Regions from separate parts of the Homo sapiens genome. Here region 1 is linked to region 2. Evidence: fine-mapped expression QTL. A gene starts in region 2. The other region holds a variant in brackets. All regions are shown on one strand. Distances are from middle to middle. Region 1 has its middle 38 kb from the start of C11orf87. Region 2 holds the start of C11orf87 (chromosome 11 open reading frame 87).

Evidence for each region. PIP is the estimated chance that this variant, and not a neighbour inherited with it, causes the effect.
Region 1: its variant is the best candidate, but not a certain one, in a credible set for the expression of C11orf87 in gastroesophageal junction (GTEx, PIP 0.59).

The regions. Positions count from the first base shown.
Region 1 is chr11:109,381,077-109,386,452 of GRCh38, reverse strand. No RefSeq gene overlaps it. Among named protein-coding and RNA genes, the nearest start is that of C11orf87, 38 kb to the left of the region's middle. The variant A/T (reference allele first, on the strand shown) is at 2,600.
Region 2 is chr11:109,419,142-109,424,517 of GRCh38, reverse strand. It overlaps C11orf87 (chromosome 11 open reading frame 87), which reads right to left and starts at 2,328. Exons shown (of 2, transcript NM_207645.4): 1 at 2,255-2,328; 2 at 1-1,143. The coding sequence starts at 884. The coding sequence ends at 291.

The DNA of each region.
Region 1 (5,376 bases), 38 kb after region 2:
GTAGTGTACAATTTAAATAAAGATACCTTTACCTGTCCATCTTCATTAACCACAGCTACCTAGTGGTGCCACTACATAGGCCTTAAAATGGCTGGGAATGTGGAAATAGTCATTGTTTACTCCAAACTGATGGCATCCCTTGGAACTACTCTCATCCAGACCATCCTTGGAACCTAATGCTGGGTTATCTGTTGGTATATAGTAAGGGTGAAAATAATACGCCGCAAGTGACAAACGTGAAAAGATGCTCCACATCATGTTATCAAGGAAATGCAAATCAAAACAACAGTGAAATATTACCTTACACTTATTAGAATGGCCAAAATCCAGAATACTGAAAACACTAAATGCTGGTGAGAATGTGGAGCAATGAAATCTCATTCATTGCCGTCAGGGATGCAAAATGGTACAGCCACTTTGGAGGGCAGTTTGGCAGTTTCTTATAAAAGTAAACATACTCTTACCATACAATCCAGAAATTGTGCTCCTTGGTATTTACCCAAAAGAAGTGAAGGCTTATGTCTATGCAAAAGCCTGCACACAAATGTTTATAGCAGCTTTATTTATAATTGCTAAAACTTGGAAGAAACTGAGATGTCCTTCAGCAGGTGAATGGATAAACTGTGGTACATCCAGACAATGGAATATTATTCAGTGCTATAAAGGAGTGAGCTATCAAGCCATGAAAAGACATGAAGGGAATCTTAAATGCATATTACGAAGTGAAAGAAGCCGATCTGAAAAGGTTATATACTGTATAGTTCCAACTATATGACATTCCAGAAAAGACAAAACTACAGAGCAATGAAAAGATCAGTGGTTGCCAGTGGCTAATGGATAAAGAAGGATGAACAGGCAGAGCACAGGGAATTTAGGGTGGTGAAAATACTCTGATACTACAACGGTGGATACATGTCATTAAACATTTGTCAAAAAACCCATAGAATGTACGACACTAAGTGTGAATCCTAATGTAAACTATGTGTTTGGATTATAATGATGTGTCAATGTAGGTCCAGCAGTTATAAGAAACGTACCACTGTGGTGGGGGATGTTGATAATGGGAGGAGCTACAAATGTGGGGGCACAGACTATGGGGAATCTCGGTACTTTCCTCGCAATTTTGCTGTGAACTTAAAACTGCTCCAAAATATGCTGTGAAAATAACAGATAAACCAATATTAATTTGGGTCCAGCTATCTGTCTGTCATTGGCATAAGTGCTAGGGGTGGAGAGCACAATGATAAAGTATAGTTCTACTTTTCAAGCAGAAGCTTATCCATTCAGGTGGATGCAGCATATCTACATGGGAATGGGATATTGCAATACATGAAGAATTCCATGAGAGTTTGCATTCTTGGTCAGCAAATATTCTTCTCCTCCCACTGTGGGAAGAGTAGACTTCTATGCCCAGCTGATCTCGGGCTTGGCCACATAACTTGCTCTGGTCTTAAAGTGAATGTGATTTGAGCAGAAGCCTTAAGAGTATTTGTGTGTTTGGCTTGGTTTTTTTCACACTCAGTGGTCTGCCAAGAGAAGATACCCCAGGTAATCACTGCCCCTTTAACCTGGGCCCCCAAATAAACATGCATGGGGCAGATTTGAGCCCAACTTCTCATCTGGAGCCAATCTCAGTTAACTCTTAGCATGCAGCAGAGCTGCCCAGATGAGCCCATCCTAAATCAGTTGAATCAATCACTATTGAACTGTGGACGCTTAAGCTTAAGAATGCTTGTTTAAGCCACTGATCTTTCAGCAGTTTCTCATACAGCAATTACACGCCAATACCAACACCAAAACAAGGAGCATGTAATAATAAGTGTGTGTGTTTATGATCAAAATTGGCTTTAAAAAGAGATAGAAATTGAAGTAGAGAGTGGGAAAGAAAATTTTTAATTGCTTAAAAGAAGACAGATGTTATCCCAGGTAAAAGGAATGGCATGAGCAAAGCTAGGTAGGTAGCTGGAAATGGCAAGGTGCCTTGGGGGCCCAGTGAACAGACCATTTTGACAGAAGCCAAAGATTTTTACATCTTTTTTGTTTTGGTATAAACTGCAAAGGTAAGTTGGGATAAACCTCTAGAAGACTTTGAATATAAATCTAAGGAAATCTGACATGTAACCTCAGAGAAATGGTTAAGAAAGTCTGCAACTGCTTTTGTGATTTGGGGATAAACAAGCAACTTCAAGCAAACCTCTTTACACATGTATTAGAAACAGAAAACAGAGGGAATTCTTAGGGAAAGAGATTTCAAAAATGAGAAGAAATAAATTGTTTTAGACATAATGAAATGAATTTTGGGTGAGACATCCTGTTCTGTTGTGTTATGTGTTTATTTTAAAAAGGAAGCTCAGTATAATTCTAATGAAGATATTTTTCAAGGTTCAGAAGATGGACATTTGAATCAAGATAGAGATCAATAAAGGAGGCTGAATTAAACATCAGTCTGTAAATTGCCAAAACATAGACTGTTCTGAATCATCTACTTGTTAGTGATAAGAAGGGTGGCAGGAAGTAGTGGAATGAGACTTCAAGGCTCGATTTTTGAGGTTTTCAGAGCTACAGGAGCTGCTATGTGCCAAATGATGTGTTCCCTTAC[A/T]GAAAGAAATCACCAAAACAGGTCCCAGAGCAAAAATCTTAATCCCTTTTGCAATGAACTCCCTAATCCTATAGCAAATGTAACCAGTGAAGTTCAAGCAAGAAGGACAGGGACAGTTTGAGTCAGGATTTCATTAGAGACACAAAAGGCTCCAGTTCACAATTGCAAATGACAATCTCATTCTGTCAGTCAGAGGTAGGTAAGAAAGGGCATTTTAAACACAGTTCTTTCCTGGGGAAAACTGCTAAGAAAAAAAGAACATACCCAGATGGCCAGCGCCTAAGGGAATATGAGATGGGACAAAAGGAAGTCAGGCAAGAAAAGATAAAATAAATTCCACATGCACTGCTTCTTATTGCCATTTCTTCTTTGTATAGTTGCTATGGGAACTGTGTTTTGGAAGCTCTCTAAACCTGTCTACTCAGTGCAAAGTGATCAAGCATTTGGGCTGAAATGACCAGTCAATCTAAGCCAACTGGTTTGATTTATTTCCAACTCATGCTCCCCCTCAACTCTAGCCAAATTGAGGAGCTGCCTAGCTGAATTCAGTGTCATCTTGCAGAAATAAAGCTGGTTTACCTGTTGTATATATTTGCATTCTTGCCTAATAATAATAAGATGATGATGCCCTTGGGATATGTCTTCCCCTACTAGGACCCCATTCGTTCTGGGATTACTAGCAGCTCTAGAAGGGGATAAAGTGGGTGGGAAGGCAGGAAAAGACTAGTTGAATAATTCATACACTTTTATCAGGGATATAGGCATACAAGCAAACTGAGGAGCAGGGAAAAGTACTGCATTAGAGACCCAGTAGCCAGGCAGAAAAGAACCAGGACGGAATAGTTGCCCAAGGCAAGGCAGAGCTGAGAGACAGATGGAGGCACCAAGAGGAGACCTGGGCAGTGAGGCCATCTTACCCAGGACAGAGGCTGCACATCAAGCTGCTGCCTAGGCTGTTACCAAACTGAGGGCTTACTCTAGCATCCCCCACTGCTGCCATTCCATGGGAATCCAGTCGCTCTTCTCTAAGTCCAGCTGCAGATCACTGGCCCGCATCCTCCACCTGGCCCTGGCTTGACATTAGGCCATGCTTCCAGATGGTTGATCGAAACACAGTTGTTCATTTCTGTCAGATTCTCCCAAGCTCATGCCCTGGGCACCTTTGCTGATTGCACTGAAGAACTATTCCCTCCCATCCCAAACCCCATCTGTCAACCCAACATGCAACATGAGGCTTCTAAGTTCTCTTCTCTTAGTGTATTATCTGTTGTCTGCCTAAGATGTCACCTTGGCTTCTCCAAGATCAGAACCCCTGGTAAACCAAGAATCAGAATGCTGCCTGCAGCCTAGTCAGTGTCAGTGTTTTACAGTCTCTCCCTCTTTGGCCAAAGAAGAAAAGAACAAAAAGGAATGACCTTTTATTAATGGAAAGCTGCAGAAATTATAAAACCAATATTCATCTACAAATTTCTGGGTAGGAAATACTGGAGATGTATGAGTCTTTCACAAACAGAACTGGCCTTTGATGTCATGAAGTGGGTTTGAAACTCTTTTCTTTTTATATATGTTGTCTTACACCCTAGTTGCCAGGTGCCCAAGACCATGGAAGCCCACCCCTTGCATCATCGTGCCCTGGATGTAAGTCATGGAGTCAAAGGAGATCATTTCAGAGCTTTAATATTTAACGACTGCCCCACTGGGTTTTGGACTTGCATGGGGTCTGTGGCCCCTTTGTTTTGGCCTGTTTCTCCCATTTGGAATGGGAACATTTACCCAATGCCTGTACCCCCATTGTATCTTGGAAGTAACTAACTTGTTTTTGATTTTACAGACTCATAGGCAGAAGGAACTTGCCTTGTCTGAAATGAGACTTTGGACTTGGACTTTTGTGTTAATGCTGGAATGAGTCGAGACTTTGGGGAGCTGTTGGGAAGGCATGATTGCATTTTGAAATGTGAGAAGGACATGAGATTTGGGAGGGGCCAGGATGGAACAATATGGTTTGGCTCTGTGGTCCCCACCCAAATCTCATCTCGAATTGTAATCCCCACATGTGGAGGGAGGGATCTGGTGGGAGGTGATTGGATCACAGGGGCGGTTTCCTCCATGATGTTCTGGAGTGAGTTCTCACAAGAGCTGGCTGTTTGATAGGGGTCTGCTGCTTCCCCTCTCTCTCTCTCTCCTGCCACTATGTAAGATGTGCCTTGCTGCGCCTTTGCCTTCCACCATGATTGTAAGTTTCCTGAGGCCTCTCCACCCATGTGGAACTGTGAATCAATTAAACCTCTTTTGTTCATAAATTACCCAGTCTCAGGTAGTATCTTTATAGCAGTGTGAGAAGGGACTAATACAGCAGGACCCTTTCTTGCTCCCCAACACCACAGATCCTCCAATCACATGACCTATGATGAAGCAACTTTATGCTGCCACTACCTCATTTTCTTTATCAAATTAGGCTGCCCCTGTGCCCCCATTTTCTCAGAGACAGGGCTCTTCTTCAGAGAAATGGGTGATAATTGAAAAATTAGATAAAATGTCTTTCCCCAGACAAATTATTTCATGACAATCCCTCTTATTACAATTGTGGAAAATACTTCAGAAAAGAAATTCACAAATTCCTAATGATGAATCAGATAAATTGAAGAATTTGTTCCATCTTTCAAAAAATACAATTGCTATTTTCTAGAGGCTAAAACTTGGCATCCTGCTCTAATAAAAATCAGATTAATTAAAAGTATTAAAAAAGTGTAATGATGCTGATGATAAATAATAATTGA
Region 2 (5,376 bases):
TGATTTGTCATGCGCTTGGATTGTGTTATTAGTATTATAATAATTACTATAAATATTAATAAAGTATTATTATCAGCGTTATTTCTTCTTCCGAGACTTTCCTCGCCCAATATTTACAAATACCGCACAGTGCCTCGGCGGAGGAGAAACAAGAGTAAGGGGAGGGCAGGTAAGGAAACCAGGAAGAGGAAAGAGGGGCCAGAGGAAAATGGAAAAGGAAGGAAGAAGGAAAAAAGCAAGGGTGGCAAAGATGCTGGAAACGAGGACGGGGAACGAGAGGGGCTAGACGATCAGGACAGTACCACCGTTTGCAAAAGGCCCTCGCCAGCTGTGTCCAAACAGGAGGAAGCTGCGTGTGCTCCTTGGGGACTGGAGGCTGGCGGTGGAGGCGGAGGAGCACAGGGACCCTGGCACGGGAGGCCAGGGGACGAAGAGGACAACGACGAGGCGTTGGAAGGGGCGCAGAAGGGAGAGTCCCGGGGCTGCCTCTCCAGCCGGGTTTCCTTTGCGTGGGTTGGGGCCTGCCTGCCAGGTCGGGGCAGCCCCCCGCCACCGCGGCTGCCGCTGCAGTGATCCCGCTCATATTCCTCCTGAGCCCTCTGCATCTTCCGCTTCTTCATCCTACGCTTGTGGATGTGGAAAGTGGAGAGGGACAGCACGATGAGGCAGAAGATGAGGGTAACCAGGACAATCAGCACCAGCGTGGAGGAGAAGGACTGGAAGAGCTGCTGTCCCACCTGCGTGATGCAGGTGCCGCTGCCTACTGCGCCTGGGCCGCGGGCACCCGTGTTGCCGCTGCCGCTGGCGTTGGGGGAAGCAAAGGTCCGGTTGAGGAGACACGGCGGCAACGCCAGCCTCAGCTCCTTCGGCGCCCTGGCACTCATTGGCGCGGGGCTGGGAGGGGCCAGGCCCACTAGGCTTCCCCTCTTGGGCACACCGTTCCTACCAGCCAAGAAGAGGACGGAGCCCACGCCACCCAAAACTGCTCCCTGTAGCGGGAGGGGGTGTGCGAGCGAGCCAAGGACTAAGGGAGCAACTGCTGGCAAGCAAGGCGACCAAGGAGTGAGCGGCGCCCGAGAGATCCTCGCCGATACCACCTCGAACACGTCTCCACGCTCCCCTTTCCTTTGCAGAGGCACCAGGCTGCAAAGACACAAAGCTTAGTTAGAATCTCGGCCGCTGCCCAGGGGAGTGCTGTCGGGAAAGATCAACCACCACCGCAAAGCGGCCCTCTGGGCACACTGCCTGAGCTGGGCGCTGCCTGTATTTTCGGTCAGCGGACCCCAGCCTGCCGGCCCGTGGCCGTGCACCAGAGCCACCAGCAGCCTGCTCATGCCACTCGACAGGATGGGGTCTGCGCCGGCACCGCGGAGGTGCAGATTACTCAGCAGATAAGGCAGCCTCCCTTCCGCCCTTCACAACTTTATAATTGCAACAGACACGCAGCCGCTTTGGTTGAAGTCCCTACTTCCCAGAGCGCCGGCTCTCCTCTTTTCTGCGCCCTCTCGGTTGATGTCTTCGCCTGGATCCTACCCTTCCCAGCACCCACTCCGGGCCGCCGCGCGGGCTCCGGGTACGCAGTCCTCCCTTCCTTTCCCTCCCCGTCCAGACTCGCCCTCCCTGGACAGCGTCAGATCCCTTGGGTCCCATTCCCAGGGGGATACCCCTGGCACCACATCCCACTCTGCCTCTGTCCGCGACCGCGGCTGACGCGCAGGAACGCGCTCCATCTCTTCTCCAGCCTTCTTCCCTGGTATTCTCCCCTCTCCAAAAAAAAAAAAAAAAAAAAAAAAAAGCAGCTGAAGCATCTTTCTCAGCTGACACATTCCCACAAACGGCCCCCTCCTCCCCATTTCCCTGTGCCCCCAACTTGGCAGTAGCCTGCTTCTTTCTAGAGGAGCTGGAATGGAAAGGGGAGGGTTCCCGCCTGCAAAGTTTGGGGAACGGGACCTTCTTTCTGTCCTTCCCAGACCCAGCCCAAAGGCCCCGAGGCTTTTCCGGCATACTGGAGCCGGTAGACCCGCAGCGCACAGGAGAGCCTCCTTGCTGCTCCCAAGAGGCAGCTGCAAACTGTTGCACTGCGGAGTAGCGAGGTAGCGCGCAAGCAAGCCAGGGCAGGGGCCGGGGGCAGGGGCGGGGGCTGGAGCTATGGCCAGGGGTGGCTGCTCAGGCCGCGTGAGCTGTCCTCCCCACTCGCACCTGGCCGTCAGGCCACCCGGCCATCAGAAGCCTTTACTCACACCTTGTCTCTTACCTGGACCGCCGGCTGGCTGCAAGGAGGGAGCCCCCGCCGCGCGGCTGCAGTGGCGGCTGCAGAAAGCGTGGAGTGAATGGACCAGAGACCGAGCCGCGCTGCTGCCGCCGCCGCCGCCGCCGCCGCCGCCTTCGCCGCCGCTTCAGGGAGCTGAGCTCGCAGCCTATTGCCAGAGAGGCCGGTGACGTCAGGCAGCCACCGCCAGGGCTCCAAGCCACCCCTCAGGCCCCCACCCACCCTAGTACCCCAACACCTTGTCCTAGCATAGCGAGCCTCTGACACACACTTCCCAGTTCCCTGCCCTTCTCCAGCCCAGGAACTAGGAGGAGCAACCCCTACCTCCACCCTGCAAGCAACCCACCTTTCTCACTCTCTTGCCTAGGAAGAGTTGAATCTTCAGTTCTCCAGCTGTCTGATTTCGTTCTAGAGCTGACCCTTTGGTCCCAGAATCACATTTTTACACTCTGGATAGCCATCTACCATCGGTGCACACATCACCGGTGGTGATGAAAATTTCCCCCACCGCTAATTCCTCTCTGTGCTGCCCGTTTCTGAACATAAACTGCGTGCATTAGAGAGATGGCAGGGACGTTTCTCAACATAAGTGTGACAGAACCCAAAACACAAACCTGAACAAATTAAACAATCCAAATTAGCCATTTTTCTCCACTGGAGTTTCCAAGTTATCTTTCGCTCCATCTGATTCAAGATCCTCCTTCTTGCATCCCTCACATCTTCATCTCCAGGCCCCAGACCCACTCAATGTATTAAACACTCCTTCTATTCTGACAATCTAGACACTCATGAGCACACAAACCCTAGTCTTACAAGGAAGAAATATGAAATTATTCACAGGAAGGCAGAAATGAACTGCCTTATGAAAATTCCAAGTATTTGTAGCTTGCACAAAGTACCCCTTCATTGACCCTAATTCTTGGTAAAGTGTTTGGAGCACAACTTTTAGCAAAATACATAGAACTTCCAGAAAAGAATTCAACAGCCTCCCTAAATCTTGGAAGAGACTAGTTAACTATTGGTTTAGGAGCCTTGGAAAAATATGAATAGTGCATTTGGTTACAGAATCCAGCTTTGAAATGGAGTATGCTCATTTTTCTGTTGGAGAAGCTAGCTGGGAACAGTACCTAAAGACATTGCATGGTCTTTGAAGGCACTCAGGTGTCTTACTAAACGTGCGTTTTCTTCTTTGCTCCCTGTCTTCTTTTCTATCTTTGAGTCTAGCACAGTGCCTGTAGTTTACTTGATAAATTGAATGATACAGTGTATGTTGTTGCTCTTTCCTGCAATGCATCAGAAATGACTGATGCCCAGTTATCTGCTTGTATTTGCTGTATTTGTAAAGAAAGAGGGTCTGATATGTGGAGGAAAGGCTGTCTGTAATCTGGGGGTCCCTTCTTCGGACTCTGTGTTTAGGGTCATACAGTTACTGATGTCTGCCCCCCGCCCCCACCCCAATGCTAGCCTCACCTTCCTGACTGGAATGAGAGCACCAGATGCCTGCAATAGCCACCTGCCACATTTGGACAATTTGACTTTGGTGGGCTTAGGGGATGGAATGGTGAGCCTTTTTATTTATTTATTTATTTTTTACGCTGTGACTAAGTGACACTTTACCATTGATGCCTGACAGGCAATGTCCCATTTTTTCACACTCGCTTTGCTCCTGAAAAGTTGAGTCTAATAAACATTTTGTAAAGCAAATCCAATTTTGGATTCTCCAAAAAGAGATCTGGCTATTTCAAGAGACTCTTTAGCAAAAAATAAAAAATTTTTTAAAAAATGTTATTTTGTAAAGCAAAGAATTTTTATGCAATTAGAATTAACTCTTGGCCAGGCACGGTGGCTCATGCCTGTAATGTCAGCACTTTGGGAGGCTGAGGCAGGTGGATCACCTGAGGTCAGGAGTTAGAGGTCAGCCTGGCCAACATGGTGAAACCCTGTCTCTACTAAAAATAACAAAATAAATAAATAAATAAATAAATAAATAAATAAATAAATAAATAAAAGCCGGGCATGGTGACAGGCACCTGTAATTCCAGCTACTCGGGAGGCTGAGACAGGAGAATGGCTTGAATCTGGGGGACAGAGGTTGCAGTGTGCCAAGATTGTGCCATTGCACTCCAGCCTGGGCAACAAGAGTGAAGCTCCATCTCAAAAAAAAAAAAAAATTAACTCTCAGTCGTCTGTTTTCTAGATTTGAAGGAATTAGTTATTGGGCTTTCCCTATGGGGAATATACCTTTACAACATGTTGTAATGGGATTACAATATGTATGTAATGGGATTCTTCTTGCACACCAAGCTTCTAGGACATGTCAGAAGGCTTCCAATGTTATTCTTTTGTTACAAATGATAGCCATCTGTTATACCAGGAGTGCTAAAGCTGTGTGCATTATTTTATACACCCTATGAAAAGACAAGATCTTAATCTGGAGAACTTATACTCTACAGCAGATAAATGTGATTCACCAGAAAATGGTATTTAACTAGCAATGATTTAGGTAGATTAAAGACATTAGTTTTCAGATCAAAAGCATAGTACCCTTTTTTGTCTTTTCTCTTTCAAGAATAGGCAGTAGGTTCATAATTTATTCTTACCCAGAGGACAAATGTACTAAATACGTAGATTTGGATGTCATTGGGTAGTGTGTTTTAAACCCAAGGAAGAGCAATGACAGCAAATATGGGCACCTCTTGGACTGCAGGAATTGATCCCACTGAGTTGCCACATGATTTTTGGCACATCTGGCTGAATGGCAAGGCTTCTTCCAGACAACACCATTGTTGCCACTATTTTCGCCACCAAACTTCACAAGCCACACTCCCAAGAGTAGAGAACCAAGAAGCTCCTGAGATTCCTATAATCTTCCCTTGTAATGGGAAAGCCCCTCTGGACATAAGCATGTTCCAAATATTTAAGAGCATTTAATATTTGCTTTCAAGTTTAATGAAGAATCTCGATCTAACTTAGATAAAAGTGCCACATGGGCACCTGTACCTAAATCTAAGCAGCATTGAATCAATAATAATAATAGCTATTATCCTTATTTGCAAAACACCTACTATGTACCAGGCTATAGTAAACCCTATATTAGCATTAATCCT